Linked DNA regions of Homo sapiens: all the other regions are linked to region 1. The links come from fine-mapping of genetic effects on gene expression. A gene starts in region 1. Each other region holds a variant in brackets. All regions are shown on one strand. Distances are from middle to middle. Region 1 holds the start of SARDH (sarcosine dehydrogenase). Region 2 overlaps DBH (dopamine beta-hydroxylase). Region 3 overlaps SARDH (sarcosine dehydrogenase). Region 4 overlaps SARDH (sarcosine dehydrogenase).

Evidence for each region. PIP is the estimated chance that this variant, and not a neighbour inherited with it, causes the effect.
Region 2: its variant is fine-mapped to the expression of SARDH in caudate (GTEx, PIP 0.93).
Region 3: its variant is fine-mapped to the expression of SARDH in whole blood (INTERVAL, PIP above 0.99).
Region 4: its variant is fine-mapped to the expression of SARDH in blood mononuclear cells (TOPMed, PIP 0.95).

The regions. Positions count from the first base shown.
Region 1 is chr9:133,733,529-133,741,587 of GRCh38, reverse strand. SARDH (sarcosine dehydrogenase) reads left to right here and starts at 3,236. Exons shown (of 21, transcript NM_001134707.2): 1 at 3,236-3,334; 2 at 7,385-7,745. The coding sequence starts at 7,415.
Region 2 is chr9:133,659,153-133,667,211 of GRCh38, reverse strand. DBH (dopamine beta-hydroxylase) reads right to left here. Exons shown (of 12, transcript NM_000787.4): 12 at 7,883-8,059. SARDH (sarcosine dehydrogenase) reads left to right here. Exons shown (of 21, transcript NM_001134707.2): 20 at 342-477; 21 at 3,198-3,652. The coding sequence ends at 3,323. Among named protein-coding and RNA genes, the nearest start is that of DBH-AS1, 5.8 kb to the right of the region's middle. The variant G/A (reference allele first, on the strand shown) is at 3,613.
Region 3 is chr9:133,700,266-133,708,324 of GRCh38, reverse strand. SARDH (sarcosine dehydrogenase) reads left to right here. Exons shown (of 21, transcript NM_001134707.2): 11 at 1-38; 12 at 3,294-3,377; 13 at 5,296-5,409. Among named protein-coding and RNA genes, the nearest start is that of SARDH, 34 kb to the left of the region's middle. The variant C/T (reference allele first, on the strand shown) is at 3,443.
Region 4 is chr9:133,678,831-133,686,889 of GRCh38, reverse strand. SARDH (sarcosine dehydrogenase) reads left to right here. Exons shown (of 21, transcript NM_001134707.2): 17 at 1,604-1,697. Among named protein-coding and RNA genes, the nearest start is that of DBH-AS1, 25 kb to the right of the region's middle. RefSeq lists an enhancer at 982-1,482. The variant A/G (reference allele first, on the strand shown) is at 3,213.

The sequences.
Region 1 (8,059 bases):
TAGTTTTCTTTTTCAGGTTCTTATTGAAAAAATAAAATCTTGGCAGTGTAAATTCAGCCCTTGAAAATTGTTCTGGAAATTTCCCTGGCCCATGAATCACCTGGGTCTGGCACCTGTTGGCTGTGTTCTCCCTCAGTTTTCCCATCTCCACGATGGGTAGCAGTTGTTGCTGTCTCATTTGAGATGACACGTGTGAAGCCTTTAGCACGCTGCCTGACTCCCAGGAGGCCCTCAGAGGTGACTGGGGCACTGCCTTCCTCCTGGTCAGTGGTGATGTTGGCTCTTATAGTTTGGGTTGGGATGCTGTTGCTCATGTCCTCTTTCACAGGGCTGCACGCAGAGCTCGGTGGAGGAGCCTCCTCCCCCAACGCCTCCGCTTCTTCCTCCCTGGACTTCTGCCCCGTCAGAGGGCAGCCTGCAGGCACCTCTCTCTGTCCTGGAAGCCTGGCCAGCAAGTCGGGGCCAAGGGCTGGTGGGGGCCTGCAGAGAGGGCCAGCCTGAGCCAGAGGAAGAGTCTTGGGGTTGGCTCAGGTATGTCCAGGCCATGAGGGCAGAGGAACAAGTCTACCACAGTCCCCACTGGAGCGGTGGCGGGGAGGCTGGGGAGGGCAGTGAACCTGGAGGCAGCCCCTCACTCCTGAATGTAGAGTCAACTGTGACTTTGATTTGCACCACAGTTTTCTTCAGAGTGCACTAAACATAGAGTCATACTCATTTTACGAGACCAGCATTACCCTGATACCAAAGCCAGATAACATTACAAGAAAGAAAATTATAGACCGATATCCTTGATGAACATAGATGCAACAATCCTCTCAAAATATTAGCAAACCAGCTGGGCGCGGTGGCTCACACCTGTAATCCTAACGCTTTGGGAGGACGAGGTGGGGGGATCACTTAAGGTCAGGAGTTCGAAACCAGCTTGGCCATTCATGGTCAAACCCCGTCTCTACTAAAAATACAAAAAATTAGCTGGGCACGGTGGTGCGTGCCTGTAATCCCAGCTACTTGGGAGGCTGAGGGAGGAGAATCGCTTGAACCGGGAAGGCGGAGGTTGCAGTGAGCCGAGATCGTGCCACCGCACTCCAGCATGGGCGACAGAGCAAGACTCCGTCTAAAAAAAAAAAAAATTAGCAAACCAAATTCAACAGCACATTAAAAAGATCATGCACCGTGATCAAGTAGATTTTATCCCTGGTGGGGTGACTTCTTTGAGGTGGCAGCCCCTCTGTTGGTGTGATCTAGAGCAGGACTGAAGGAAATTTACTCAGGGAAATTTACAAGGCTTCTGTGAAACTGACATGGCAGGGCTTCCAGCCTCCTGTTCCAAGATGGGAAAACTAAGTCTCAGCAAAGGGAGAGGTGATAAGACCAGCCCGAGATCGTACAGGACCCTGTCTTGGCCTCCTTGTCCGGAGCCTGGCCTCTCCAGAGCTGTGACTACTAGTCCCTGGGGGGAGACAGCCTTTCCACCTCTCCCAGACCGGAGCTGGGTGCTAACAGGCCCTGCCGGATGAAAATCCTACGATACTAACAGACAGCTAACAGGCCGGGACCGGCCCCCAGCCACCACCCCTTGTCCAAAGTGCAGGTTCATTGTGCTGCCCTCTTGGCTTGTAACAGTTTTGCAACAGTTGCAACTTGTCTTTGAGTGCAGGGACAGGAGAAGTGTGGGCTACCCGGCCACTGCCCTGGAGCTGTGGTGACTGCTGCGTTTTTCTCCCATGCACTTGCACGTCCAGGACTCCTGGGAGAACTTGGGCCACACTCCTTCCTTGCCCTCTTGAGCTCATTCGTCACCCTGTTGGGTGAGCACAGCCCTAGCTCAGGCCACTGGGCAAGCCACACCATCCAAAGAGGAGGTCCTCTGCCCCAGGACCCCCACACCACCCCAGGTAAGCCTCAAACTGGCGGGGCCAGCTTTCCACTGGGCAGCCAGGGGCCTAAGCCAGTGGGCCCTTTGCCTTTGAGGCAGGGACTGAGAATGGTGTCAGCACGTGGTCAGGCCCAGAGCCCAGGCCCCCTCCTCTAAGAGGTCCTCCTGGATTCCCTGCTGGAAGGAAGCCAGCCTTGTGGTGTCGTGTCTCTCCCTGGATCTGTCTGCTTCGTGGACCCTGAGCCCCTCGAGGGCAGGGGCTGGGTCTTAGATGTCACTATAGGTTTCCCAGCAGTGCTTTGTACACATTGGGCATTCAGTAAATGTAGAGGATAGACAAGCTGGCAACAAGACAGTCGGACATCCTCGGTGTGAATAAGAACACAATGATTTGATTGGTATTAATTACAGCAGTTTACTATACGATCGCTTCCGGTATTGGCAGCTGGCATCATTACAATATTAACAGACTGCCATTGAAATGCCCCGTCTTTGATCCAGCGCGAGGAGGAGATGTGACTTTCCATCAGCACCTGTTCTGATTCTTTGGGCATCCAGAGGTGTATTCTTTCTGGGTTTCCTCCACACCCCTCCTCTGGGTGTCTACTTCTGTCTGGGAAGGGGTAACTTGCCCCAGCCCAGAGTCAGGCTGCAGCATCCGGTCTGCCTCCTCCACCAGCTTGCTGTGTGGCCCCCTCCCTGGGCACTGCTGTCCCCAACAGTCAATGGAGGCTGGAATCCCTGCCCTGGGGGCTACGTGCTGTGCAGTAGCCAGTGGCTTGGGGGCATCTCCCCAAACACCAGAGGGGTCTGGGAGCTCGGGAAAGCAGGACGCAGACAGACCAGGAGACCCTGTCCCTGGGAAGCTGACCCAGGCCTTCTCACTCGCCTCTGAAGGCAGTGAGCATCCTGTCCCTGGGGGTGAGCAAACTGGGGCATGTGCTGAGATGACCTCACCAAAGGAGCCTCCCTGCAGTGGACGGGCCCCTGGCCCAAGCTGCTGCTGACCCCACCTTTCCTGCCCACCCTGCCTGTGCATAGCTCCTTCTGGGCGCGGGGAGCTCGGGCGGCTCCAGCAGGCAGGTGGTGCCTGGGTCTACTGCAGCAACCCTGAGGCGCCTGTTTCAGAGACGAGGAAATGAGGGTTGGAGCGGAAGGGTGACTGCCAGGTCGCCTACGGGTAATGGGGCATGGGGTTCACAACCCTGCTCTGCCGCCCTCAGAGGGAGCTGCCCACAGGGCTGGCCTAGAAGCCCCAACTAAGCTGGCCTAGAAGCCGCAGTGGTGGGCGGTACGCTCCGCCCAGATCCTGGGCGGAGACATGGGGCTGGCAGCGAGGGTGGGGGGCGGGGGAGGCCTGGAGTTCCGGCCAGGCCACTGCTTGGGAAGCAAGAAGGTGAAGGCACCTCTGCTGGGCCAAGCACTCTTAGGGCCGAGGGGCACTGCAGCTGACAAGAGGTACTTGGAGGTACACCCCCAGGGAGGGACGAGGCTGGGGCCTCCCCTATGTGGGCGGGGCTGGGCCTGGTCAGATCTGGCTGGGATCTCCCTCTGCCTCTGGCTGCAGGGACCATCCAGCTGCATGAGCAGGACCAGGGTTCACCATATGGGCAGCTGCCTCCCCGCCCCCTGCCGCTCCTCCCCACAAGTCTGCCTACCCTCACCAGGCGAAGGTGCCAGGCGCTCTCCTCGCTTGACCCCCACCACCCCCTGAGCCTGGGAGGAGGAGGGCGTTCCTGGGTCCTCTGCTTTGCAGTGAGGTTAAGTTGTTGCTCGAGGCCCCAGTCCTGTGACAAAACCCCCACCCATCTGTCTGATCCCAAGCCCAGGGCTGTCCTCAGCCCTCACTCCTGGGAAGCTGACTCAGGTACGAGACAGAGTTGGAGGGGGCAAGAGAGTGGGTTAATGTGGAGGCAGCTGTTTCCAGGGAGGTGGCAGGCAGGAGGGGCTCTGGGCTGTCCCCGCTGGGGCCGCTGCCAGCCCCCAGTCTGACAGTCAGAAGAGCCCTGACTGACCAGGCAGGTGGTGAAGGGGCACGTGGCAGCCTCCGGCGCCAGCAGCTGTCGCTTTTTGGGCACAGTCGGAAGGAGGAGGGAGGCTTTTGCCCACAGCTGACCAGGTGTGCTGTGCCATGCGGCACCGTGGTGGGTGGTGGGTGGTGGGGTGGGGGTGTTCAGCCTTGGAGGGCCTTCCTCGGTGCCACTCAAGCTGGCTTTCCCCTGGTGGGGCACCACTTTTGGGGGCTCCTGGAAGACTGTGGACCTTCAAGGACTGAAGGTATGTACAGACACATGCAGGAGGCATGCCTCCTTGTCCGGGGCCACCTCTGCAGGCAGGAGCCAGGCGGGCTGACACACTGAGGGCTGAGAGGCTGAGGACAAGCTCCAACACCTCCTCACTCCCCTACGCCGCTGCAATCAGACTCCCTGCTCCCTCCCTTGGGATGGGGCACTGGGGCAGGAGATGGGGGGCAGCCCTGACCAGCCTGAGAGCTGGGATCCCCCTCACATCCCCCACTGTGCCTAGGACAGGGTTCTGGGCTTCGTCAGGGCTTGGGCAGTGCCCACAGTTCAGGTGGGACAGAGTGTGGCAGTGGGTCCTGAGTCCCCCTGGGATGGTCAGAAGAGGGGGCAGGAGAGAGTCCCTGGCACTGCCACATGGAGGCCCTATGACCCTGGTCACCTCAGGGAGCCTCTCCGTGTGTCAGACTCCCCCGCTGTGAAGTAGAGACATTATCATGTGTCTATAGGTGTTCAATGAGAGTGAACGAACGTGCATAGCTATGGTCCACTCTTGAAAAAGGATGCTGACTTTCTTAGATAATTATATCAGTCATTCATACTGACGTAGGTGGCACAGCACTTCACATCTTGGATCACAGCCACATCCCTTTCACTTTTCCTGCAGATCCCAGAAAAGGGCAGTGGAGGTCCACACTGGGCAGGACACCACCCCACCCTTCCATTGAGGGCTGTTGTGAGACCTCCGTTCTTAACTTCTTAGTTTAAAGAATTTAGGCTGGGCACAGTGGCTCATGCCTGTAATCCCAGCACTTTGGGAGGCCGAGGCAGGCGGATCACCTGAGGTCAGGAGTTCGAGACCAGCCTGGCCAACATGGTGAAACCCTGTCTCTACTAAAGATACAAAAATTAGCCAGGCATGGTGGCATGCACCTATAATCCCAGCTACTCGAGAGGCTGAGGTGGGAGAATCGCTTGAACCCAGGAGGCAGAGGTTGCAGTGAGCCAAGATCATGCCACTGCACTCCAGCCTGGAAGACAGAGTGGGACTCTTTCTCAAAACAAACAAACAAACAAACAACAACAACAACAACAAAACAGAATTTAAACATGAGACACACAGCAAAAGAGCTGCAACATAGAGCAATTTATTGCAAAAGAAAAAGAACATTTTGAAAGTTAGGTGCGGATGCACCCTGGGAGAGAGAGGATTCCAGGCGGGGGGCTGCTCCTGAGTGTGAGGCAGCATTGATGATTGTTGGAGAAACCCCCTTTCAGGGAGTCTTCCACAATTATTCATAAGTGGGTGGAAAGAGAGGAAGAGGTTACTAGGCAGCATGTGATGGCTGGTCCTCTGGGTGCACATGCGGTAGCTGTACATGTTTGTTCATACGTCACATGTCTCTTTCGCATCTTTTTTTTTTTTTTTTTGAGACGGAGTTTCACTCTTGTTGCCCAGGCTGGAGTGCAATGGCACAATCTCGGCTTACTGCAGCCTCCACCTCCCGGGTTTAAGCAAGTCTCCTGTCTCAGCCTCCAGAGTAGCTGGGATTACAGGCATGCACCACCACCCCCGGCTAATGTATTTTTAGTAGAGATGGGGTTTCTCCATGTTGGTCAGGCTGGTCTCAAACTCCTGACCTCAGGTGATCCGCCTGCCTCGGCCTCCCCAAGTGCTGGGATTACAGGCATGAGCCACAGAGCCCGGCCTCATTAGCATCTTAAAATCTCCACCGAGGGGTGTGTTTTTTTACTATTAGAATGAGCAAAGGGTCAGTTTGAGGACAGGTAAAATCAATGTGCACATGCCCTCTCCAGGGGAAAGGCCCTACTGCAGACAGCTTTGCTTGAACGAGCTCAGTTAACACGAGCTCAGTTACAGTGCAAACGTGGAGGCTGATTGTGTGGATTGCAGTCACCACGGTTGCTGCGTCCCCAGGACATGGTGACTCCTTTGACTGCCTGTCCTGCCTCGCCTGCACCCAAGGAGACATCCGTCTTCATCAGCGCCTTCTCTCCTGAGAAGGAGGGCTCCCTCTTGCATTCTCATTGTTATTGGATTTTTCTGGCTGGGCAGATCTGGGAGGGTTTCCTGAAGGAGGAGGGAGTCGGGGTGGGTCAGCTGGGAAGGAGCAGAGGGGAGGAAGGCCTGTTAACCCGGCTTCTGAGCCCCTACTCTGCAATCCCAGGTGGCCCCAAGGGAGCAGAGCCGGGACACCACATCCTTCATCAGCTTCCGCCTTAGTCCCACCGAGCTTTGGGGCTGATGAGGGGGCAACCCCTCTTGTCTGGGTTTGGGAGGGGCCTGCCCAGGAGGAGGTGCTGGCTCCAGGCTTGGGGGTTGGGTGCCCCGTCTCGAGGCTGCCTGCCGATACCCTGCGGCCACTGCTGTAGCATCCACGATGCCTCTCCCTCCTCCTGGCTCTCTGTCTGGGAGCGCAAGTGTCTCCATCACTCAACACAACCCCCTCCCTGCCCTGCTGTGCCACTACCACCGCCTTCTCTGGGCACTCCTGCCTCCCAGGTCCCATCCCCACCCCGCAGGACCTGGGGTCTGCCCCAGCACAGACCTGTGGGGCAGCAGGGCTGCTTGGCCCCTCAGGAGCATCTTGAGCTCCGAAAGGGCTCTCAAGGCTGGCGGGACGGCCCCCGCCCAGCCCCAGCCTCTCGCTGTCTGTGATCTGGGGGTGAGTGTCCCTGAGACCGGAGCCCCTCCTTTCCAGCTATTGGTCCTCTGTCCTCAGTCCCCTCCCCATCCTCCCTGCCCGGCCTCACGGGGCAGCCCACTTTCCTCAGGTCTCACTTTGGATCTCTGCCAGCCACGCCACCCACTCTTCTCTACCTCCCCTTGTGGCCCCGACCCCCACTTCTACCCAGAGCTTGGCGCTCCCTGTCTTTTCTGTGGGCTGGCAGAGACCTATCCTCACCAAGGTTGCTCCCGGGCACTGACAGAGCCTGCTGCATACCAGGCCCTTAATACATACACACAGAATGAATGAATGAATGAATGAGTGAATGAATGAATGAATGAGTGAATGAATGAGTGAATGAATGAATGAATGAGTGAATGAATGAGTGAATGAATGAATGAGTGAATGAATGAATGAGTGAATGAATGAATGAATGAGTGAATGAATGAATGCCATGGGGAAGTGGCAAGAGGAAGGCCCTGGGAGGTAACACCATAGGGCCCTTATTTCCCTGGGTACTCAGCACAGCCCCCAGCGTGTCCCCTCTGCACCCCACCCAGCTCTGATTCTCTCCCCAGCTCCCTGTTTCGCTGAGGCCTGGAGCCCCCATGGCCTCACTGAGCCGAGCCCTACGTGTGGCTGCTGCCCACCCTCGCCAGAGCCCTACCCGGGGCATGGGGCCATGCAACCTGTCCAGCGCAGCTGGCCCCACAGCCGAGAAGAGTGTGCCATATCAGCGGACCCTGAAGGAGGGACAGGGCACCTCGGTGGTGGCCCAAGGCCCAAGCCGGCCCCTGCCCAGCACGGCCAACGTGGTGGTCATTGGTGGAGGCAGCTTGGGCTGCCAGACCCTGTACCACCTGGCCAAGCTGGGCATGAGTGGGGCGGTGCTGCTGGAGCGGGAGCGGCTGACCTCCGGGACCACCTGGCACACGGCAGGTAGGGACCGGGGGCCAGGTAGGGGCAGGGAAGGATAGGACATAGCGAGGGGCCACAGCCCATTGCTAGCTGGGACAGTTCTTGGTTCACAACAACCAGCCTGGGGAAGAGACCCTGGGGAAGGGTGCATGGCCAGTTTGCAGGTGGGCGGAGCTGGGGGCACTGCTTGCCCTCCCAGTCGCTGAAGAGCTGTGGTGGGAGGAGGGAGCAGATGCTGCTTGTGTGGCCTGGAGAGTGAAGCTGGGGCCAGAGCTGGAAACTCCAGGCAGCTGTCCAGAGGGCAGAAGCCCCTTTCCTGGACAGAGCCACCAGGA
Region 2 (8,059 bases), 74 kb after region 1:
AAAAAAAAAAAAAAAAACCAGAGTTGAACAACAATGGAAGGAAATCGGAAGCAGGGGCCCTCCCAAATATACGGGGCTCGCTTCTGGAAACAGCAAAGTCCACTCCTGGTTTTGATGTTTTCTATTCATCCCTTTTACTCACTCGAAGCCCGAGCCCTGCTGTCCAGGCCAGGTGCTGGGCTGGCTCTGGGGACCAGCGTAGTCCTAGTAGGCCAGCCCTATCTGCCTGGAGCCACGGTTGGGTGTGCATCATGCAGCCCCCCATTCTCCTCCAGGCCGCTGTGGACGCGTCCCCACCCTGCGGTTTCTGGGGCCCCAGCTTTCTCTACTGCTTCTTCCAGCAAAGTACCCATGTTTGGCCTGGAGGCCATCTGGAGGAACGGCCAAGTGGTGGGCCATGTCCGGAGGGCTGACTTTGGGTTCGCCATCGACAAGACCATCGCCTACGGTTACATCCATGACCCCAGCGGTGGGCCGGTGAGTCCCCTTCTCTGGCCCTGCTAAGGCAGATGCCGATCCCTCACCAGCTCCAAACCAGCTCCCTGCACTGCACCCTGAGTGTGCCGGGCATAGGGAGGAGGCACGGGTGTGGTCCAGAAGAGGAGGAGGGAAGAGAAAGGAGGGAGGAGGGAAGAGGGGGAGGAAGGAAGGAGGAGAAGGAGGGGGAAGGAAAAAGGGGAGAGAGGAAGGAGGAGGAGGAGGGAGAGGGAGGAGGGAGGGAGAAGGAGAAGGGGGAGGAAGAGGCCTCAGCAGGTGGAGGACTCCCCAGCTGTGCCTGGGCAGAGCCAAAGCTGCTCTCTGTTTTCTTTCTGGAAGAATCCGACTTTGGTGATTCCAGGCTTTTTTTGGTTAGAAGGAGGTGCCAGCCAGCCAGGCTGATACCTTCCAGCTCCTCACACCAGAGACCCAAACCTCAGGCCACCCACAGCCCACCCTTTGCCTGGGGTGCAGGGGTGGCCCCCAGGGTGACCGACTAGAGACTCAGAGACCCATGTTCCTATCCTCTCTTTCCTCACCCCCGACACCCCTGACCCCAGGCAACCCCACCCCCTCCAGGTGACCCTGACCCCTGGCTGCAGGAGGCAGGAACAGGCTGGAAAGAGCAGGCACTGCCCCCAGGAGCAAGTCCCAGGACAGCTCTGGGTGGCCAGGGGTGGTGGGGCAGGGGGTGGGCAGCCTCCCCAGAAGGGGAAGGGGTGGTCTCTACCTCCACCTCCTTTTCCCATCTTTCTGGCACTGCAAGTAGAGGTGCCGGTGAGGAGGGTCGTGTCTCTCCATGGGAGCCGATCTGACGTTTGGCCTAAGCCCTAAGTGAGGCCGGGAGGTGCTGGCCTGGCTCCAGAGCCTTCCAGCCTGAGCCCCTGATGGACACGTAGAGGGAATTGGGGAGGGAGCGAGCACTTGGGAGAAGCCATGAGGAGGGGTAGGCTGGAGACGGAGCAGCCTTAGCAAGAGCTGCAGAACATGCGCAGGCCCAGCTCGCAGGCCCAATGGGGAGGGGACACCGCCAGGCCTCGGGCAAGACCATGGTCCTGTGGAGCTGTGGGGAAGTGGCAGCCCATGGGGCTGAGTCCGGCGGTGGAGCTGGGAGGCTGGGGACACACTTGATGCCACTAGCCTTTGGATCTGCCTTTTACTTGCTTTGTGACCTTGGATAAGGATCCTCTCTTGGAGCCTCAGTTTCCTCATTTATAAAATGTGGACACTCACCTACCATGCAGGGCTGTCATACAGGCCACTGCACAGAGTGAGTCTTAATATGTGGGGATTGTGATGGCATGGCTCCCACGGTGGGCAGGGCCTCCTGACACAGCCCTGGGGCCATGGTCCTGGGGGCCACAGCCCTGGGGCCCAGCCAAACCGGAGTTTATGGGCTCCATGCCAGGGTGGGCTGGGGAGTGGAGGCTCCTTTGCCATTTCTTCAAAGAACAGTAATGCTCGCCTTTCTCCGGAGTCAGGGATGGGTCCATAACCAACGTGACCAGGGAAGCCGAGGTTCCGAGGTTAAACGGCATCCAGACAGGCAGCCGGGGAACCAGTCGATGCACCCAGAGCGGCCGGTGCACGTCTCCTGCCCCCTCCATCAGGGCTGTCCAGAGCATTTGCACCATGGAAATGGGCAAATGCTACAGTCACACCCACCTCACCCCAGAGCTGGTTGTTAAACATTTTCTAGCACCCAAGTGGGGTAACGGAGGTTTCTGCCTAAGATAGGGAAACCTGCTCATTGATGGGAAAGGCTCCGAGATGGGGAAGGCGTTTCTGCCTCGTAGGTATCTGTTAGCAAGGCCAGATGCCCGCTTTGAGTTGTGCATGCCCGTGGACATCTGAAGGCCACCAGCTCTCCATGCTGCCTGCCTGCGGGGGGCAGCTCAGAGCTCTCAGCCCTGCAGGTGCACACATGGCTCAGAAGCACCACTCCTAAAGCTCCTGTCGCAGAAAAAGCTTGGTTTGTTTTTTATTTTTTTCATCCAGTCCTGAGCTGCTAGGAACAAGAAGGAGCCCTCTGACTCCCAGAGCGGAGCCCGAGACTCCCTCCTGTGGCCCTGACCTTGGGTTTAATTGCTGTAAAGGAAGAACAGCTTCCCTGAGTGGCCTAGCCTGCCCTCCTCATAGCAGCTGCAGCAAAAGTGCCAGGCGTCACCAGCTGTGCCAGGCTGGAGGTGACACCCTCCTCCTGCCTAAGAGCACCTGCACCTGGGGCTGACTGGCTCCCGAGCGCTTGCTGGGGAGCCCGAGCCAGGGTGTGGGATGGGGAGCATGCAGAGGCCAAGCTGTCTAGAAGGCTGTTCCAGCCGCCCCTGCCCCGAGGGATTCGAGCCGGATTGGCCCCCAGCCTCGGCGCTGCTCTGGCCGCTGTGCTTGCCCGGGTCCGGGGAAGCCACCGTGTTGCTGCTGTTTCCCAGGCATCTGGAATTGCTGGGGTGGGAGGTGTGTTGTCCGGTGGAAGTCATATTGGCTGCCAGACCTTGGCTTTGCCGGACCCCAGATGCCCATGTCCAACTCAAGATCACATGGACACGAACTGCACCTGCTCTGGGGCAATGCCTGGGTTCAGAAAGGAGTCCCTGGCACAGGGATGAGTTTGCCCACAGGGCAGGTAGCAAGACCAAGACCCCCTCCTCCAGAGAAGCAGGCAGACGTGAGCCCTGTACCTACCAACAGAGAGTGATCCTCATCCCCACCTCTGCTCCTAGGTCTCGCTGGACTTTGTGAAGAGCGGGGACTATGCCCTGGAGAGAATGGGGGTGACCTATGGTGCCCAGGCTCACCTGAAGTCGCCCTTCGACCCCAACAACAAGAGGGTGAAGGGAATCTACTGAGGGCTCAGACCACATGCCCCATCCCATGCTGTCCATCCATTCTCACAGGTCCCAAATGGCCCTGGGTCCCAGGACCCTGGACCCAGCCAGAACTTGTGCCCTCCCTGTCCTTAGCCTAGGCCTAGTCCTGCGAAAACCCCCAAACCAGATACGGACAGAGACCAAGATGGCCCATCCTGTGGTCACTGACTGGAAGGCAGTCTCTAATCCACCCCAATCCTCCCAGAAAGCAAACCTGTAAGTGTCTTGGGCTCAGGGACCATGGCTTGTAGCCCTTTCCAAGCTTCTA[G/A]AAGGTGCTTAGTAAATACTTGATAAGCCCCACGTGAAAACAGCGAAGCAAATAGGCTTCATCTTTTACTCCAGGCTTGACTGATCGGTGGCGGGCTTCCCTGGGGCACTTGGCTGAAGAGCATGAGGCTGTGTCTGGGTCAGGAAAGAGAGGTGATCGACTGGCATTGTCTGCCACAGCGCACATGGAGGCCTGGGACCAAGGCCATTCTTCAGGATGGTGCCTCTCGGCTCTCAGGTCGGAACAGGAGCTGGAAAGCTCTTCTTACCTTGCTCGACCTCCCTGTTCTTCAGGTGGCAAAGCCTCCTGAGAGTCGGCAGCCCGGGAACACAGAGGAGCCGAAGCAGGGAGCGGGCGGGGCCTCAGATTGGTGCCCTCCTCACCCACACAGAAGTGCCAGCTCCTGCCTCAGTTTCCCCTTGAGCCCCTCGCTCACCAGGCCCAGGCAGGAGGGACGTGCTGCTGGGTAAGAGTCTGGTGGAGTCCCCCTTTCTAGGTGACCTTTGTCTTTGCTGTTGATTTGGACGCGGTTCCTGCCCATGCCCTCCTCCTTGTCTGGCCCTTGCAGGAGGACCCTCTCTTAGGCTCTGCCCTGCACGCTGCCTTGAGATGGGGTGGCTCCTCTGCCCACCTTCTCTTCCCCCTGATAACTGCCTGTGTGTCAGAAGCAGCTCTGCCTCTCCTGCCTGGGAGGGGTGTGCATCTCTGTCCATCCCACGTGCTCAGTCCCCTCCCTTGTCCCCCCGAGCCCAGGTTCAGATCAGGCCCGTCAGAGCGGCACTGCGCAGTCTTGCCAGGCATGCCCTGCAATCTGGGAAGAGCGGGAGGCAGATGCTTGAGGGTATCGTGGAGCCGGGGCCCCACAGAGCCACACACACAGCAAACAGCGATCTGGGGGCAGCAGTCCTGGCAGGCCCCAGCTGCCACTGGACGCTCCCAGGCCACGCGGCCCACTGTGGACTGAGCTCGAACAAAGCTGTGGGCAGACGTTTGGGTTACAGATGGCTGTGAAAAGTGGGTTTGGCCCCCTGAGTCTGGGGAGGGGGCTGCGGCTGGAGACCAGGGTGGGGGCTGTTGGCTTTCACACGCTTCAGGCTGAAGGAACACCTGCAGCCTCCCCTTGCTCACAGGCGGGCCTGGCTTCTGGATGAGACAGCTTTGTGGGAGCCAGGGGAGGAGAGGAGGGGAGCCGGCTCCCCAGATGGCCTGGCCTGCTTCCTCCGGGTCTGCGGTTTGGCCATAGACCCCTGGATTGGGCCGGTGACCACATTCATCTCACGGCCCATCCCTGGGGGAAGGCTGAGGATGAGGGGAGGTCAGAGCCCGGGTTCCGCTCCAAATTGTTTCTCGTGGCTGCAGCTGGGGAATGCACGCAACGGCACCACCCTGTCCCGAGGAGAGAGAACCTGGCTGCGCTCCCTGTCCCGAGGAGAGAGAACCCAGCACCCCTCCCTGTCCCCTGTGTGCTTCCCCCGCCCCTGTGGAGAGAGAACCTGGCCCCTCGGGGAGGGCACTGGGCATTGATGTGAGCGCAGCCTCCACAACTCACCTCCCAAGCTCATCACCTGCGGGCTCCATCCCTGCGCTGCCAGAGGTCCTGGCCCCGCCATGGCTCCCAAGTGCACCGCCCGGGGACCACATCACAAAAGACCCACCTTCCCAGACCCCGAGCCAGGTCTTCCAGACCTCAACTTTAAAAACACCGTTTCGTAGCTATTTTTAAATTTTTTTTCTGGAAATATTGATACCATGACGCTCACTGTGGCTGAGTACTGCCTCTCAGGAATTCTGAGCAAACTGTTTTGAAAGTGCCTACACTGGCCGGGCGCAGTGACTGACGCCTGTAATCCCAGCACTTTGGGAGGCCGAGGGGGGCGGATCACCTGAGGTTGGGAGTTTGAGACCAGCCTGACCAATATGGTGAAGTCTCATCTCTACTAAAAACACAAAATTAGCTGGGCGTGGTGGCACACGCCTGTAATCCCAGATACTTGGGAGGCTGAGGTGGGAGAATTGCTTGAACCCAGGAAGCGGAGGTTGTGGTGAGCCGAGATTATGCCATTGCACTCCAGCCTGGGCAACAAGAGGGAAACTCTGTCTCAAAAACAACAAAAAAAAGAAAGTGCCTACATCGTCACCGGCAGAGCGCTATACCACAGTGTGCAGTGAGACAGCCTTGGGCCATGTGAAAAGTTGGGGGTATGAATGGGACGCAGAAAGGTTCCATTTTGTTTTTTTTTGTTGTTGTTGTTTTTTTTTTGAGACAGGGTTTTACTCTGTTGCCCAAGCTGGAGTACAGTGGTGTGATCTCAGCTCACTACAACCTCCACCTCCCAGGTCAAGCAATTCTCCCACCTCAGCCTCCCAAATAGCTAGGATTACAAACGCGCACCACCACAGCCTGGCTAATTTTTGTATTTTTAGTAGAGACGGGGTTTCACCATATTGGCCAGGCTGGTCTCGAACTACCGACCTCAGGTGATCCGCCCGCCTCAGTCTCCCAAAATGCTGGGATTACAGGCGTGAGCCACCGCGCCCAGCCCTAATTATTGTATTTTTTGTAGAGACAGGATTTCACTATGTTGCCCAGGCTGGTCTTGAACTCCTGGGCTCAAGTGATCCTCGCATCTCAGCCTCCCAAAGTGCTGGGATTACAGGCATGAGCCACAGCACCCGACCTTGTATCATTTTAATTAATTTAAAATTAATCGTAAGTAGCCACATGAGGCTAGCAGCCACCAGAAAGCACAGCCCTGGTGTGCTCTGGGACCCAGTCGGGCAGGCACCCCTATGCTGGCTGGAGCCTGGGGTCGCCCCACTTCTCTCAACACTGATGGGCATGAGCATTCCTCACCCCAGGGCTCTGAGCACCTCACAGATGGGGGGTTGTGCCACCCTAGCAGTCCCTGCCCCCTGGGAGGCTGGGGAACCCTCTCCTCGGTGGGCAGATAGGGAGACCCAAGCCTAGGGAAGGAAAGTAACTAACTCAGGGTCACACAGCAGGGGCAGGAATAGCAACCTGGGCTGCTGGACTCACACCCCAATCATTCGGAAGGTGGGCGAGCCCAGAGTCCCTTTGGCTTGGGGCATGTAGGTCATTTTCAGGTAACAAAGCACTTCCCCTAAGCCTCTAAATAAGGAACTTATTTTAGATAAAATCCCCCACAAGGGTCCTGGGGAAATTCCTGTTTCCTAAGTAAGCAGAGGTTGAGCATTCAGACACTGGAGTCAGACCTGGGGACACTTCGAGCTCCCCGGCTTACTCTGGGTGACCTTGGCACCTAACTTTAGGTCTCTGAGCCTCAGTTTCCTCCTCCATCAATGGAAACAGAAACTACATGGCTTCACGAGATTGCCACGGCTGTGCATAGCCTCAGTGTGGGGCAAGTGGCAACTCTCAGCAACCACGGGGTTACGCTTATCTGGGTGTAGGAGGTGCGGGTACTGCTGGAGCGGGGTAGGGGGGACACGGCTGCTGTCTCTGCAAGAGGAAGAGGATAACCAGCCTGAGAGCAAGAGTGTGAGTGGGGGGTGAGGTGGGGGTGGGGTTGTCGCTGTGGCAGGTTCCAGAGCTGGCTAGGATTCCCAATCACTGCCGCTCTTGGGCCCCAGGTGAGGTACTTATCTGGGAGTCTCAGTTTCCCTGCCCGAGATCGGCAGGCTACAAGTGCCCCCCAGGTGTTTGGGCAGGACCCTGGGACCCTTCTCTGGGCTGGCAATTGGGTGTGATCGCGGGAAGAGGCTTCTTGGGCCTGCTCCGTGTCTACTGTCACCTAGGCTGTAAAGATGACAGAGGGCCGGAGTGGCTCTCCAGGCTGGGGCCTGGCATTTCACAGCGCTAGCGCCGTGACTTATGGACCACAAGAAGCTGTGATTTATACAACGTGAGGCAGAGCTCCTGGGCTCGTGACTTCCCTTCTGTGATGAAGTGAAGTGCCTTGCAGAAGCAGCAGCCGCTTAGCTGATGCGAGGGGACTCCGAGGCCCATCCATCTCCCTCTCTCCCCATGAGGCTGGGCAGCGTTTTGCTGAAGTGGCTGAACACAAGTGCATCTGTTACTGTCTCCAGAAACCATCAAAGAGCTGAACTTGTCCCTGAGAGGCAGCTCAGAGGGCAGGAAGGGGAGACCCACCCAGGCCAGCTGAGGCAGCTTCAGGACGCTCAGGGGGAAGCACTTGGTACCACGCCTGGCACAGGGAGGAGGCTCAGGAGCAAGCTTCTCTCTCCTGGAGCGACGGCCCGGAGTGCAAACATACCCACCTCCAGTGGGTGCCAGCCCAAGTGTGAGCTTTATTGGCTCATTAGCCCGCACGGCATCAGCCTGGTTTTACAGATGAGAAAAGTGAGGGTCAGGAATGTGAAATGGCCCGCCCAAGGCACACTCCCTAAGTGGCAGAACCACGCGGAAAGCACAGCCCTGACTCCACCCCGGTCTGTTCAGCGCTGG
Region 3 (8,059 bases), 33 kb after region 1:
TGGCCGGGCGCAACATGAGGAGAGACCCGCTGCACGAGGTAACGCCCCTACAGCTCCTGCTGGGGACTGGCAGCGAGGGTCTGGGACGTCCTCAGGGCAGCGGAGTGACAGAAATGCAAGGTGTACCCCAACCGCAGGTCAGGTGCGGTGACAAGGTGTCTGTCATTCCCCAGGTAGTAACCCGGCACCCCCATGTGTTGGGCACAGTGCTCAGGGCCAAGAACATTAGGGAATAAAGTGGAAATGGCTCCCTCCCACCCGGGGGCTTCTGTTGTAGTGGAGGAGCAGGAACGCACACCCAGGAACCGCCCCCTGCCAACTGCTGGCAGCAGCGCCAACAGGGCAGGGGTCCTGGGGGCGGGGTCTTGGTGGGTGTATGCAGCCACGTATTGGGAGAGCAGCCAGAACACGGCGTACATTGGAGAGGGGCTCCTGCCTGTAGAGCCTGCTGCGGAGGCTCTTCTGCCCTGGTGAGCTTCGACTCACCCATTCAGTGAAACCCACTGTCAGGTGCCCCTTTCTCAGGTCTGCCCCTGTGCCCTCCCCTGGTCCCCCAAAGACAAAGGAGCTCCTTCTCTGCGCTCCCAGCCCCGTCTCCATTCCTTCCCCCTCTCCCTGGCCATCTCGTGCTGGACGCTTTGCTTTCTGGGGAACAGGGGCTATGTCCTAGGCACTCTGGTTCCTGAGCATTGAGGTGCTCGGGGGATGTTTGTTGAACAGATGGATGGGCGGGGAGGCAAGAGGGAGGCTCAGGGAGCAGGTGGCGTTTAAACTGAAGAAGGGGCCTCCCTCACCTGAGATTCCAGTGTCTGGCCCCAAGAGAGATCCTGGTATTAGCTGTACCTCCTGGGGAGAGGCCCAGAGTGGTCACAGGGCTGGCTCCCAGACTGCCCTGGCCCTTTGGCCTGGCTTGGTGGACCAGCTATGATCTCAGGCCACACATGGCCCTGGGGTCTCCCTAGCATGCCCCCGGGCCTGTAATCAGTAATCACGCCCTTGCCAGTCCTGACAGTTCAGAAGCCTCCCTGGGTGAATGCAGGGTTTGCTCCTCTCGCAGTCAGCTCAGACGCATTCCTCAGAACTGAGCAGCTCTACCGAAGAAACTTGGCAAGGGCTGAAGCACGCCCCTGCCCCCCAGGGAAATCTTGGTTCACCCACGCCTCGACTTCCCTTCCTAGTTAGCAGCCTTCTTGCGACACTTGACAGCCGCTTAAGTTTGTTCTCTTTCTTTCTTTTATAAAGAGGGGAGCCTGCCCTCTTTTAATGGGCTCTTGAGATGAACAGTTTGCCTCCTTAGAAAGGTGGCCCATGGGATGTCCCCATGGTTCACTGAGAGGTGGGTGGATTTTGTGCCCTCGATTGCCATCCCCTCAGAATCCCAGGCAGGCAGGGAGGACATGTCCATGTCATTGATGAATGCTGTGGCCTTGGGCGTGCCTCCTCCTTCTTGGGGCCTCGGGGGTGGAGGGGAGGGCAAGTGCTGTTGGGACAGACCCTCAGCGGGCCATCTGGAACCAGATGCTGCCCCCGAGGCCCTCTCAGCCCTGCGCTCGGGGCCTCGTTCCAGTCAGAGGGGGTGGCCCCTGGGTAGGGCCCTTCCAAACCCGAGAGTGGGTTTTCTTTTTTTTCCCAAACCAAATTTATTTTTAAAGAAACCTCCCACTCTGTTTCTCTAGTGTGTTCATTACATTCGTTGTTGTGATTAAGTAGGCAGATCTTAAAATGAGCTATTTTAACTGCTCTAAAGTGTACAATTCAGTGGCATTAAGTGCCTTTGCAGTGCTGTGCAACCGTTCCCATTACCCAGTTCCAGAACATTCTCATCACCCCACAGGGAAACACCATCCCCAGTAAACAGCCCTTCCTCATCTCCTCCCACCAGCCTTGGCAACCACTAAGCTGTTTCGGTCTCTATGGATTTGCCTGTTCAGGTCACTTCATATGCTGGAATCATCCAATACATGACCTTTTGTGTCTGGCTTCATTCCTGTAGCATGTTTTCAAGGTTCATCCTGTGATAAAATGTGTCCAAATTTCGTTGCTTTTTATGGCTGAATAATATTCCATGGTGTATGCAGACCATGCTTTGTTGATCCACTCATCAGCTGAGGGCCACGGGGGTTCTCTCCCCTGGTTAGTGGTTGCGCATAGAGCTCAGTGAACATGCGTGAACGGAATTTGTTTACAACCCCGCTCTCAGTTCTCTTGTGCATACTTGGGAGTGGAATTGCTGGGTCGTATGGTGCATCTTTCTGCTAGGGCAGCCACAGCAAAAGGCCACAAGTGGAGAGGTTTCAGCAGAACTTTTTTTTCCCCACATTTCTGGAGACTGGGAGGTCCAAGATCAAGGTGTCAGACGATGGGTTCCTGGAGAGGGCTCTCCTGGCTTGTAGTCGGCCACCTTCTCACTGTCCTCATGCAGCGGGGAGAGGGCCCTGGCGTCGCTTCCTCCTCCTATAAGGGCTCCAGCCGTATGGGATTAGGACCCACCCTGATGACCTCATTTAACCTAAAGATCCCATCTCCAAATAGAGTCACGTCAGGGTCAGGGCTTTGACATACGAATTTATGTGGGGATGTGATTCCGTCCATAGCAGATGGTAATTCTACAGATGGGGGTTCTCAGGGCCAAGGCAGATCAGGGCAGGTGGTAATTCTACAGATGATGGTTATCGGGGCCAGGGCAGATGGGGCAGGTGCTATTCTGTAGCTGGGGGTTCTCAGGATGAGGGCAGATAGGGGAAGGTGATAATTCTACAGATGGGGTTCTCAGGGTGAGGGCAGATGGGGCAGGCGGTAAGTCTATAGATGGGATTCCTGGGGCAAGAGCAGATCAGGGCAGGTGGTAATTCTATAGATGGGGGTTCTCAGGGTGAGGGCAGATGGGGCAGGTGGTAATTAATTCTATAGATGGGGGTTCTCAGGGTGAGGGCAGATGGGGCAGGTGGTAATTAATTCTATAGATGGGGGTTCTCAGGGTGAGGGCAGATGGGGCAGGTGGTAATTCTATAGATGGGGGTTCTCAGGGTGAGGGCAGATGGGGCAGGTGGTAATTCTATAGATGGGGGTTCTCAGGGTGAGGGCAGATGGGGCAGGTGGTAATTCTACACATAGGGGTTCTCAGGGTGAGGCAGTGAGGGTAGCTGCAAACACTGGGCTGGAGGCCTGGTTCCAAGAGTCAGGGCCTCCTTGCTCTCCGCACCCTTGGGTGTAAAGTGGCGGATGTGGCTCTCTGCCCTGCGCAGGGGTATCAGGCCATGCGTGACAGATGCCTGTTCCCCACTCCTGCTCAGGAACTCCTTGGACAAGGCTGCGTGTTCCAGGAGCGGCATGGCTGGGAGCGACCGGGATGGTTTCATCCCCGAGGCCCAGCTCCGGTGAGTAGTGCCTGCTGGGCTGTGCTGCTGGGAGGCCCTGCCCTGACAACCCCCTTGCCCCTCCA[C/T]GTGCCCCGTCCTTGCCCCTCCGTGTGCCCCGCCTCCCCAGGTGGTTCCACTGTCGTGATCAGTTATTCTGCACACGGGAAGCCGAGCCCTGCCGACCTGCCCCCAAGGCTCAGTGCATTCTTTGTGCCGTTCACGCAATTCCCACTCCTCGTCCTCCCCACTACCCGTCCGCTGTGGCCAGGCCTTCCATGGCCTAAGTGGGAAGGGCTGTAGGCAGAGCAGAAGGGGTGTCCTGCGGTGGGGAGACAGCAAGAAGACTCCCCCAGGTTGCAGGAGGAATGGAGCGTCTCCTAATTCTGTGCATCTATTTTTGGCCACTCCGACTGTTGGTTTATGTCCGTAGGAGGGCAGGCACTGGGCAGGTTGATGCACCCAGGGTGCTCAGTTTCCCAGTGGAGGTTTCACAGTGGCCTGGACTCTGGGCGTCCTCTGGGGACTCCCAGGGACCTGGGTCCTCAGTGAGAGGAACAAAGGCAGTCCTGCTGTGAAACCTGGGACCCAGACCCTCGGGAGCAGGGGACGCGAGGCCTTAAGGCCAGCTGAGGGGTAGCATTTGATCCAGATTTACAGAAATCGAAATCCCCTTCCCGGGGCTGCGTCTCACCAGTCCCCTCTGGTGCACCCACCTTCCATCCCCATGGCAACCCACAGCCCAGGCCAGGCTCCAGAGCTCCAGGGCATCGGGAGGGGAGATGAGAGCCAGAGCTGGCTAACGGGGCCACGGCTCTGGGGTCAGAGCCTTGCAGGTCATCGTCTCTTCTCCTGCTGGCCCCTAGGGACATGCCGTCCTCATGAACCCTGCGGGGAGGAGGGGTCTGGGCAGACCCTGTCTTGAAGTGCAACCCACTGTGTTCCAGTCAGATCTGGCCCTGGAAGCCCCTCTCCCCTGTCCCTGGGCGAGGAGAGGAGAGTCAGGAACACACCCCAGGTCCCAAGATGGGCGGATTTTGCACCCCCACCCGGGAGCCAGCCTGGGTGTCCAGGACACCTTGGCAGGGCTGCAGTGGGTGGGATGTCCCTGCTGGGGAGGGGGGTACTCCATGCAGAGATGCCAGCAAAGCCTGACTCCCTTACAACCTCACACTGGCTCCCACTTGTGTGTGAAGAGGAGGTGAGGCTTGGGCGGACGGGGCTGGCAGCCCTGGGAGGTTAAGAATTGCCCACACCTGCATTCACAGCTGTGCCGTGTCGGCAGTTAGGAGGGCAGGTGGCGGGGTGGGGGGTTGTCTGCAGGAGCAGCGGCCAGGGAGGGGCATGGGGCTGTGGGGCTGTGGGGTGTCTGATGGGGGCAGATCCCAGGGAGGCCAAGGCAGTGGCAGAAAAGCTGGACTCTGGAGCCCACGCACCTGCCTGGCTTCGTGCCACTGCCAGGTCCAGGACTTGTCTGTGCCCTTGGGCGAGATATAACTTCTCTGCGCCTCACTTTCCTCATCTGTAGAAAGGGGCACACCTGGTAGGAGTGTAAGACGCTTCCCGCAGGGGCTGGCCCAGAGCAGGAGCTGGGCCTGGGATTGCCGTGGCTCCAGGGAGCAGCCCTGGCTGAGGTCCTGGGTAACCACCTCTCCCTGTCGTTCCCCACCTTGGGTGCATCCAGCTCCTCCTCCAGCCTCCTGGGCCCTGGCTGGGCTCTCAGACCCACCAGGCAACCCTGCGGCCTCCTTTGTGCCTCTGTTTTGCCTGGACCTCATGGGGGCCCCCTGCCCGCGTCCACAACACACGGGCACTCAGTGCAGGGCTCTCCGAGGGCAGGGCCAGGCCTGACCCCATCACAGCCTCAGCGGGACCCCGCTCTGGGGAGGGAAGCGGGGAGGGGCCAAAGAGGCAGGCTGAGGACCACGTCTTTTCTTCCCAGGTCCTCGAGTACGACTACTACGGGGCTTACGGGAGCCGCGCGCACGAGGACTACGCCTACCGCAGGCTGCTGGCAGACGAGTACACCTTCGCCTTCCCGCCCCACCACGACACGGTGCGTAGCTGGGGTCCACCGTGGGGGTCCGTCCTTCTGCCTGTCCCTCAGATAAGCCATTGCGCCGGCCCTCGGCTGGCCCTGCAGGGGCTCCCCTCCCCCAGGAGTCTCTTCGGGCTCTGCATTCACGCTTTTTTCGGCTGACTCCATTTTGAGGAGGAATCATGCGTTTTCCTCTCCCCCTCCTCCCTCTGTGCCGAGATTTTGCCAGCAGCCAGGCCTGAGCGGAAGTGGTGCTGCTGGGGATGGGGTGAGGTGGGGGCGGAGGCAACGGGCTGGGGCCCGGTGGGGCTGCACCGCTCTGAGCCTCCGCCTCCCGCTCTCCGGAGCTGCGCCGAGGCTGGCATGAGACGTGGTGGGGGAAGGGGGTCCTCCCTCCTGGAAGCCAGCGCAGAGTAGATCCAGGACAAGGGGGCCGCAGGCTCCTGGGCATCAGGCCCCGTATGGGCCCCTCCAAGGGACAAGCAGAGGGAACCAGAGCCGGGAGGGCCGTGGCCTGGAGCCTGCTTGCTGTTCCTCTGGCTCCAAAGTGGGCAGGCGAGGCTGCTCACACGGGGCAGCTGGCAGCCCGTCGCCCCTGCCTGGGGACCTGGCTCCCACGTGCAGGGGGTGGAGGTGAGGAGTCTTGGGGGTCTTCTCCCCCGCAGCAGCCTGCACCACACAGGGGCGTTCTCCCCCGCAGCTGTCCGGGAAGGAGCGAGGCCAGCGTCTGCCCTGGCCTGCCCAGTCGTGTTGTAAAGTGCTCACAGGTGGAGCACAGCTGTTGTCCCCGTGCCACCCCAGGGAGACGCGTGACACCTCACTGCGAATCTGACATAGGAGCAGAGCCAAGGCCTGAGCCCAGAGTCTCAGAGCCCAGGGACAGCTTAGGAGGCATCCACGAGGGGGTTCCTTCCTGGGGCCTCTAGGCCAGTCGCAAGTCCGGCTTGGGTAGGGTCTGACCCTGCGGTCGTCCGTTGCCTTGAAGGGCCCCGCTTGGGTTCATGCTGTGCTGTCAGTGCCTTGAGACTCTTCATGGTCTTTGAGCAAGGTCCCCACTGGGTCCCGCACTGGGTTCTGTAGCCAGTTCTGAAGGGAATAAACCGTTCATTTCCACCATCTCCCCGAAAGCTTGCTCTAGTGGTGGAACATCTGTTCAAGGCGTCGGAAGAGGGGGCTCCTGCAGGAAGGAGGAGGCGTGTGTGTCATGAAGCGCCGCAGCAGCAGGGCCGGCTCAGTGCCCGAGTCCCTTGTCGCTGCCTCCCAGGGAGTGCTCGGGGCTCCGTCTGGCACCTCCGCACCCACAGCTTCTAAAGCCTGTGGGACTCTGGCCCTCGAGGATGTGGGAGCTCGGGGGAGATGCCAACTTGGCTTTGTGGCTTCATCCGGCCTCCGCAAACGCGCCTGAAGCCGTCCTAAAGCACGAAACACGTGCTTGTTCTTGGCGCTGGCAGCTTCCCCGGCCTGCTAGAGGAGCCCAGCGCGGGAGGCTGCTGAGGGTTTTGGTTGGCAGCCCCGGTGGCATCAGCAAAGGTACAGCAGAAACCGACAAAGGGGAGCCCTGTCCTGAAGGACAGTGATGCCTGGTGGGGCTGGAGAAGCCATGGAGAGCTCAGGAGGCAGATGGTCCCTGTGGTGTGCTGGTAACAGCTTAACAACCAGCTCTCTGGGGCAGAGGGGAGGAAGCTGGCTCTGTAGCACCGGCCAATTTCCCTGATGTAAATGCTTTCTCCATGGCTGATTTCAATCCAGTCCGCCAATGAGGCATCACTGAATGTGGAGCTGGGCAGGGATCTGCCTGACCAGCTGTCAGGGTCAGTGCACCCCTGCACAGCCTGGCTGGACCATAACTCTGCCACTGCCTGGCTGTGCCACCATCCCTGGCCTCCCTGAGTATGTGAGGGGTAATATGAGTTCCCTTGTGGAAACTCAAAGGGAGTTTGGGAGGAGATGAAACAGCTTCCCGACACACGGCAGCTGTTCAGGAAGCTGTGGTTGTTGCTGTCATGATTATTTTTTTCCTGTAACAACAATGAGGTGGGCACCTCTGCTCAGCAGTGGGGGGCATGTTGAGCCCTGAAGGGGAAGACCAAGTAGAACATACAGTGAAGAATAGAAGATTCTCAAAACCTCACCCAGGCATTTGTAAACCTGGGGAAGGAAATAGGGAGTGATGTTGTTTATGTGTGTGTGTGTGTGCGCGTGCGTGTGTGTGTGTGTGCTTTGAAAACAGCTTTATTGAGATCTAATTCGCATACTATATGATTTATTCATTTAAAAGGTACAACTCAGTGTTTTTTAGTGAGTTCACGGGATTGTACAACCATCACCATGATCTAGTTTTAGAATGTTTTCATCTCCCAGCAAAAGATACCCCACACCTCACCCTATCCCCAGCCCAGGGCAACCCTACTCTACTTTCTCTCTCTGTAGATATATCTAGTTTGGACGTTTCACGTAAGTAGAATCATAAAAGATGTGTGCTTTTGTGATCAGCTTCTTCCACTTAGCGTGATATTCTCAAGGCACATTCATGTCGTAGTGTGTGTGTCAGCACTTCATTCCTTTTTTTTTTAATTTTTCAAATTTTTATTTATTTATTTATTTTTTGAGATGGGGTCTTGCTCTGTTGCCCCAGGCTGGAGTGCAGGGGTGCAATTCGGCTCACTGC
Region 4 (8,059 bases), 55 kb after region 1:
TGAGGCACTGGTATCACTCTCCAGGGCTTGGCACCACGTGGGTGCTGAGTGGTTACATAAGGGTCTTGGCCAACTGTACCACAGCTGAGCACCTCAGGCTGACGTGGGTGGCGGCTCCCAGCACTGTGACGATTGGGATTAGGGTCAGCAGTACTTCTGGACAGCCCACCCTGCAGCCTCAACACCTGCTGGGATCCCAGAGGGACAGAAGTGGGGGGGCGTCTCCTAGCAATGGGGGCCTCACCCTGCTGTGCCAAGCCAGGGTGTTCACAGTCAGTTCTATTTACTGAGAGCCTGCTCTGTGCCAGGCACATTGGGATAGGGGGATGCTGTTGGCACGGAGCTCCTGGGGGTGGATGCATTGGGGGTGGGTACAACCAATGTGAGAGACACCCTGGCAGGAGACTGTGGGATCTTGGACAACGAGTACCTGCCCAAGACCTAGGGAGTCAGGGAGGGCTTCCTGGGGGAGGTGACAGCTGAGCCAAGAGCTGAAGGATGACAAAGGGTTAAGTGGTGACAGGGGAAGGGGTGAGAATGCGAAGGGGCACAAGAGGGCTAGGCCTGGAGGTGGGCACGGTGCCCAGGAGGTGAGGGCTTCCTGGGAGACCATGGGTGTTGGCTCCAGTGAGGTCTCCGGTACTTGCGCAAGTGTGAGAGTAGATGTGGTGCTGGGTACCACGGAGCAGGGAAAGTGGGGAGCGAATCCCCACCCTCGCAGAGCTTAAAAGCAGGGGTGGACCCAGCAAGTCTGTGCAAACTGTCCAGTATGGACTGAGTGTCCAGTGCTCAGGAACATTCCCGGGCCCTCATAGCACTGTGGCACTCAGGTGCAGCCCTGCCCTCGGTAGGTGACAGTCCCCTAGGAGGTTGAAATGGCTCTTAGCACCTGCTGGGTGCTAAGCCCAGCTCTCTACCTCCTCCAAGTCTGCAGCCTGAGCGTCTCACACCCATGTCAGGCAGAGGACTTTGGGGCCGAGGTGCCCAGTTGGAGGGTTAGGTCAGGGAACAGAGCGGGGTGGTGTCTGGGAAGAGCACTTTCTGCAGTGGGCTGGGAGGAGGCCGGAATCTGCTCCAATCCGGCTCTGCCTTGGGCAAGTTACTCTACTCTTCTGTACAGCACTGAGGCCACCATAGCCAGCTCCTCTCTCGGGCCGTGGCTACCAAAGCAGCAGCTGAGGCCCCTCTGGCCTCTGAAGAGTTGGAAACCTGGAGAGGCCTGGGGATGTGGATTGTGGATTGTGGACCTGGTCCAGATGCTCTGTTCCTCCTGGCCTGTGGGCTTCAAGGGCATTCTATGGTTAGATAACCACTCTGGCCTCACTTCCCCATCTAAGAATCGCGAGTCCCGTTAGAGCTATCTCCAAGTCTGGCCTCCCCCAGGGGTCCTGCTAGCCCTAGCGTTACCCCGTTGGAAGGTGGCTGTCTTATGTATATTTGGAACGTACATCTGTCTTGGTGTATTTTTATTAATCCATGTTTATTGTCATCTGTCTCATGAGGACAGGGACTTATCCCACTCATGGCAGGTCCCCGGGGCCTTTCCTGCCCAGGCCCCACCCGTGAGCACTTGCTGACTGAGCGACTTTGCTCTTGCCTGCAGCCGAGCCATTTTGCAGGAGGTGCTGGACGCAGACCTGAGCAACGAGGCCTTCCCGTTCTCCACCCACAAGCTACTGAGAGCCGCAGGGCACCTGGTAGGTTCCAGCTGGCCACGTCCTCTGGGTCGTGGGTGGCAGCATGGTGTGAGGGGTGCGCCGGGGGATCTGGGGGCTGGGGGCTCTCGGGCAGGTTCCTTTGCCTCCCTGGGCCTCGGTCCCCAACTGTGAAGGGGGGACAGTGGGACCAGGCGGCCCTCCTACAGGCTGTTGGGAGCTTGGAGAGGTCATGTGGATCAAAGTCACAGCGTCTTCCATCCCTCCTCGGTGCCTGGTGCATGCCAGGGACTCAGTCCCAGGGAAGGTGGCCTTGGCCTCACTGCCTGCATCGCCACCTATTGTATCCCCTCCTGAAAGGCGCGGGGCAGCCCTCCCGAGGCCAAGTGACCTCCTGGAAACGGGAGGGCCGAGCTCTGCTGAGCAGTAGCTGGCTCCGGAGAGCTCCGTGTGGCAGCCTCCCAGCTGCCATTGTGGGCGTGGGAGGAGGGGCTGCTGGGGTGGGAGCACAGCCAGTCCCCAAACAGCACCCCACATGTCCCCCACCAACTCTAGAAAGCCTGTATCCTGGGGGCCAGAGCCCGTCCCTTCTGAGATGGTGGTAGTGTCCGGAGCCAGCACTCCATGGGACCTGGCCCCAGGCAGGAGGCTCCCTCAGAGACCAGGATCGGGGCCCAGATTCTAGTTCTGGGCCAGCACGACCCTCTTCTGGGCTTTGTTTCCTTGTTGGAAAACAGGCATCTTGGCATCTGCTTTGACTTCTCGAGGCTGAGATGAGGATGGTAAACACAGCAGCCCCTGTTTGCCGAGGGCTTCCTGTGTGCCAGACACTGTTCCGAGAACATCACAGCACACTTTCCCATGTAATCCTCGCCATAGTGCGGGCGGCTCTGTTACAGGGTCTCCCAACCTCAGCACTACTGACGTTTGGAGGAGATCCTCTCTGCTGTGAGGGCCCTCCTGTGTGACACAGGTGTGTGGCCGCCTCCCTGGCTGCCGCCCACTAGGTGCCAGTGGCACCCACCGTCGTGACAGCCACAAGTGTGTTCAGACATGGCCAAGGGTCCGCTGGGGGCAGGATCGCCCATTGAGAACCTCAGTGCATGACCACCCTGCTTGTTTGCAGGGCTGTAAGCCATGTAGTGGCAGCGGGGGCCGGGCCTCCAGAGCCCTCCAGCGCTCATGCTGGAGGAGATGTCGCCCTGCATGACGGATGTTACCCAGATGGAGCTCAGAGAGGCTGGATGGGCCAGGCTGCTCAGGGCCGCCCGGCTAAAGAAACCCAGAAAGCCCCCGATATGTGTCAGTGACACGGATGTGGCCTTCAGGAGGGGGTGGGCGGGTGCACGGCCGCGTTTGGAGGCAGCTCCCTGTCTCTCCTTCCTGTATGTTCGTCTGGGGTTTGGGTGGGGAAATGCTAAGGAAGGTTGGGGAGGAGCGAGGTCCTGGCCTGCAGAGGGACTGGAGGTCCTGGGGGACAAATCTGGGTTCTGTTAGCAGATAAACAATCTGGCGATGACTGTCAGGGAGGAGGCGGCCAGAAACTAGGGAGATCCC[A/G]GCGGCTCTGCTCTCACCTCCCCTCTCCAGAGGCTGCACAGGGGCAGGAAGCAGGGCCGGCTGTGTCTAGCTTGCTTCCTGCCTCTGTGGTGCAAAGCTGCCTGCTGGGACCAGAGAGGGTGGGCACTCAGAGAGAGCAGCACAGCTGGATCCAGGCCACACGGCCTTCAGATGGCCCGACTCCAGCTCCAGCAGGCCGGGGTCCACGCAGCATCCAGCTTTGTCTGCAGCTGGGTTCTGGTTTGCAGAAGGGGAGGGGGGCTGCGGGTTCTCCCACCTTGCTGAGGCTTGGCATAGGTGCTGCTTCTGTCTGGTTTGGCTACAGGACGGGGAGACGACCAGGTGGGAACACGTCCCCTCCCATTTGAGGCCCAGCAGCCTTGCCCCCACCCGCACGGCCACTCCAGCAAGCTGCTGGGACTTGTTCTCAGACAGGCGGCTCCAGCTGCCTCCCCTCTCCTGGGGCTGGCCCTTTCCTGGCCCTGGCAGCCTCCCCAAGCCTAGGCAGTGGCTGCCTGGGTCAGCCTCTACCTGTGTGGCCTAGGAGCCAGGCCAGGCCAGGTGCTTGCTGAGCTGACCCAAAGGCTCTGCTTCCGGGATGACATCCCCCAGAGGAACAGGCCAGGCCAAACACAGCGTGGGGGGTGCAGGGGGTGCAGGGGCCGCCTCTCCCCACAGTCTCCTGCTCATTGGTGTAAAATCACTGGTGTTGTAAAAAGCACATCACGGCTGCATAAAATACTGCTCATTGCTCGGTTTCCAACCATCACTGCGCATGGGTTTCAGCACAGGGGCTGAGTGCAGACCTCGCTTCTAGCAGTTTCCAACCATCACTGCGCGTGGGTTTCAGCACAGGGGCTGAGTGCAGACCTCGCTTCTAGCAGTTTCCAACCATCACTGCGCGTGGGTTTCAGCACAGGGGCTGAGTGCAGACCTCGCTTCTAGCAGTTTCCAACCATCACTGCGCATGGGTTTCAGCACAGGGGCTGAGTGCAGACCTCGCTTCTAGCAGTTTCCAACCATCACTGCGCGTGGGTTTCAGCACAGGGGCTGAGTGCAGACCTCACTTCTACCAAGCCCACTTTGGGCACGACCCTTGCCCCCTCAGAACAAGGATGCTGGGTCTGTGGGCAGGTCTCGTGAGCTGCGGCACGAAGCTCATCTGGCTGGGACATGGTGGTCAGCGGCATCTCAGAGGACCGTTGGGGACATTCATAGCCTGCCAATGAGTTAGCGAAAACCCCTCTAATCCCATCCCAGAGAAACCAGGGTTGACAGTTGAGTGTGTTGCCCGCCATCTTCTTTCCGTCATCTGTGACTATCTGTGGATTTTAAAATGTAATCAGGGCATCCCATGCAGTCTGTACACACTGCTTTATTCTCCGAATGTCGTGACTGTTCCCCTGTTCCTTTGAACGTTCCCCGAGAACCACTTGGAACGCCCTCAGCTGCGTCTCCAGTGCCCTGCTCATGTGTTTCACACCGGGTCCACCTCTCTGCTTTGGAAGTGGCCCCGGGAGGAACTTCCCTTGAACACCGTCCTCCCAGTAGATGCTGACTGTTGGTCTGAGAGAGGGTAGAGCTGGGCCCACCAGGTCGGAGGTATGTGCGGTTCATGGTCCCGGGTCACTCTGTGGTGTGTTCTTCTCTGTCCTTCCGTATTTCTGCGCCCCTCGCTTGCCCAGTGCTACCCTAGGTCTCAGGCGGAGTGGGAGAGAAGCACAATGCTTTCTAGGCTGGGGTCCCTGCGTGTGGGATGGGGGGGAGGGGAAACACAGGGGAGGTGGGACATGAGCGTCAACTGGCGTGCGCGATCGTGGGGACACAGGAAATAGGCGGCGGGGAGGTGCTACACGCATAAGGAGGCCCAGCTGCTGGGAAACACGCCGCGCACCGGCCGTGGCAGTTATCCATGGTGTACCTCCCAGCACCGTCAGCTCACGTAGGGCCACTGGGACTCTCAGTCAAGCACTAGTGTTTTACTAAACTTAACGATCCGTTCCCAGTGCTGTGCTTCTCGTCCTCTCCCTCACTAGCGCTCGAGAGACTCTGGAGTGAACTCTGGACATGCTGCCTGGGAGCCTGCTGGGTGCTGGATTGGGGTCCCAGGATGGAAGATGTGGCTCCTTCCCTCGATGGGCTCAGACCCCGAGTGAGGTTGGGGCCCAGGAAGGGACCTGCAGCCACAGCCCAGCCTGTACTGGAAAGAGGTCCTAGGCAGGGTGAGGGGTGACCCCAGGCCAACGGGTTCTCATGGAACCGAGAGTCCCGCAAAGATGGCCACAGAGAACTGAGTGTTGGCAAGAACCAGACAGGGTGGGGCAAGGCCCCGAGTGTCTCGACCTCTTGGCTAGAAAAAAAGTGTGGCCCGTGTTGGGGGGCTCTGCCCTGGGACTGACCCCAGGGGCCTGTGGACGAGCCGGGAGCCCACATCAGCTGCCCCTGCTCTACCCACTACCCACCAGCATTCTCCCCATCCCTGTGGGCCCCATCCTGACACCTCCCAGCCCCCGTGGCAGGACCAGGGCGGCAGATGTCCCCGGTGCTGAGGGCAGGCTTCCATCCCCACACAGCCCCAGCCAGGAGCTCGTCTCTGCCGACAGCCAGTGGCCCAGGGCCCCACTCCTTAGGAAGACAGACGACCTTAGCGCACAGATTTACTGTCACCTGGGCTGAGTGGCCGGCTCTGTGGGGTCATTCCCATGCTCATGTTCTTGGAGTCCGTGGGGTCCATCGGGGACAGACTGGGGGTGAGCTGGGGCTAACCATCTTCACCTAGAGACCCTGATGCCCAGCACTGAGCGCAGCCCCACTGGCTTCTCGTCCCTCTCCCTCCTTGTCCTCCCGGCAGCTCTCTGGAGTGGCCAGTGTGGGCCTGGCGGCCAGGTCTGCGTGTGTCTGGAGTGGCCAGTGTGGGCCTGGCGGCCAGGTCTGCGTGTGTCTGGAGGACGACTGTGGCCCTCAGGAGCTTGAAGTTGCTGGGTGGCCGGTGGGTCCAGATCCCATGAGATGAGGCCGGGGACTCGAGGAGCGTGTGGAGGACGGAGCGGCCAGGAATCCTGTCCTCAGTGACCTCTGCCTCCTCTTGAGGGCCCTGGGGAGGTGTGGGCCAGGAGAGCAGAGGTTCTGGGCCCTTAGTGTCAATGTTACAGTTTTTGCTGACCTGGGAGGCTGTCCCTCAAAGTGGCCAGGGCCACGCGCTCCCAGGTGGCCCCAGCCTGGGACACAGTGCCCTCCCCATTTCCTGGCCAGCAAGACGGGTGGGGATACAGCCACTGGCCACGGCCAGCTCCCCCTGTAGGGGGCCTCACAGGCAGGTGGGAGATGGGAGTTGAGTCAGCCACAGACACTGGGGGGTTTGGGACCAAAGCATCCATGTTACCCAAGGCTCGGTGGAGCTCAGGCCAGAAGCCTGGCTTCCCATCCTGCCCGGTCCTTCTGCGGGTCGCCTCTCTGGGCCTCAGTGTCCCCACCTGTAGCACGGAGTCTAGCACAATGTCTAAAATTCTTTCCGGGCCTTTCCATAAGTCTGTCCAGACACTCTGGATTCTCTGAATCCAGGGAGAATTTCATATTCTCCTAAATAATATCTTGTGCTGGCTTAAAAATGTGTTGATGACATATCCCTCAACGTGAAGAAACGCTGGGCTGGAGCGTGGGCCTGAGCCAGGTATTTATAGGCGATCAGTTGGGTTCCAGCCAACCAGATGCAGGCGAGGAATGCGTGTGCCTGCGCAGTCAGCGGAACCTCTGGGTTGAAAGCAGTTGTGAGGGCCGATGAGGACAAGGGCCAGAGCTGCAGACCCGGGCCCCGGGTGCGAGAGCGGGCGCCTGCCGCTGCCCAAAGACCCTCCTCACCACCAGACGAATTGGGCGCGATTCCCAGCTGAGCACTGCTGCTGTTGTGCAGTGATTGTTCTCCGAGAGGCTGGGATCTGACCCAGGCTGCCACGATCCCTGGACTGCTAGAGGAGGAAGCAGGGTGGGGAGAAGTTATTGTCCGCTCAGCAGCCAGCAGACCAGCTGTCCTTGCTCCCCAAATATCTTGCCTCGAGGCCAGCAAGATTCCCCGTGGGTCAGTGCTCTCCCGGCGTGTCTCCCAGAGCTCCGCTCGGCCAGACACGGTGTTCCCAGGGCCCCTGCCGAGGACGGGCCCCGCCGCGAAGCAGCATGCTGGGCTGGGAGCACTCCGTGGGGCACGGTGATCAAGTGATTTTCTCTGAAAATTAATTTCAGCTCAAAAGGAAATTGAATCTCTTTTCCTGACAGCGAGAAGTCCTAGTCGCGGCGCTGTTAGGATTTGATTAGCTCAGGATGGAGCAGTCCTGCACCCACACACGTTAGATAACTATGACATGCCAGTCAGAGACCAGCTGAGTTCCAGCCACTGCCTAAACACTCGCTTTACAGAACCCGTGCAGATTTGCTGAGGCCTGAGACAGATACCCGATATCATGGGCAGGTTCCCTGATGCAGCACAGAGAGACTGGTGGCCGCAGGCTGGGGCACCGTGTTCCCTGTCACGGGTCGAGCTGTTGCCACGATAGTGTGAAGGGCCTGGGCCCCAAGGGGAAGTTGGAGCGAGGGTGTTTGTGGAGTGGGTGGTGGGAAGCTTCGACCCCCACCCGGGTTTGCTGCTTCTGTCTGGGGCAAGTGACCTCAGGCAGAACTGGGTGCAGAGGGCTCTGAGCTGGGGGCCTTGGAGACTTCAGGGGCAATCGGTTCCAGGTTCTCATCTTGCCCTTGTAAGGAAAGAAAAGGTGTGAGCCCTCCCCTCACCCATTATCAGGGGCATGGGAGACAGCCCTGTAACAAAAGACTGGTTCACAAGAGAAAAGCACACCAGA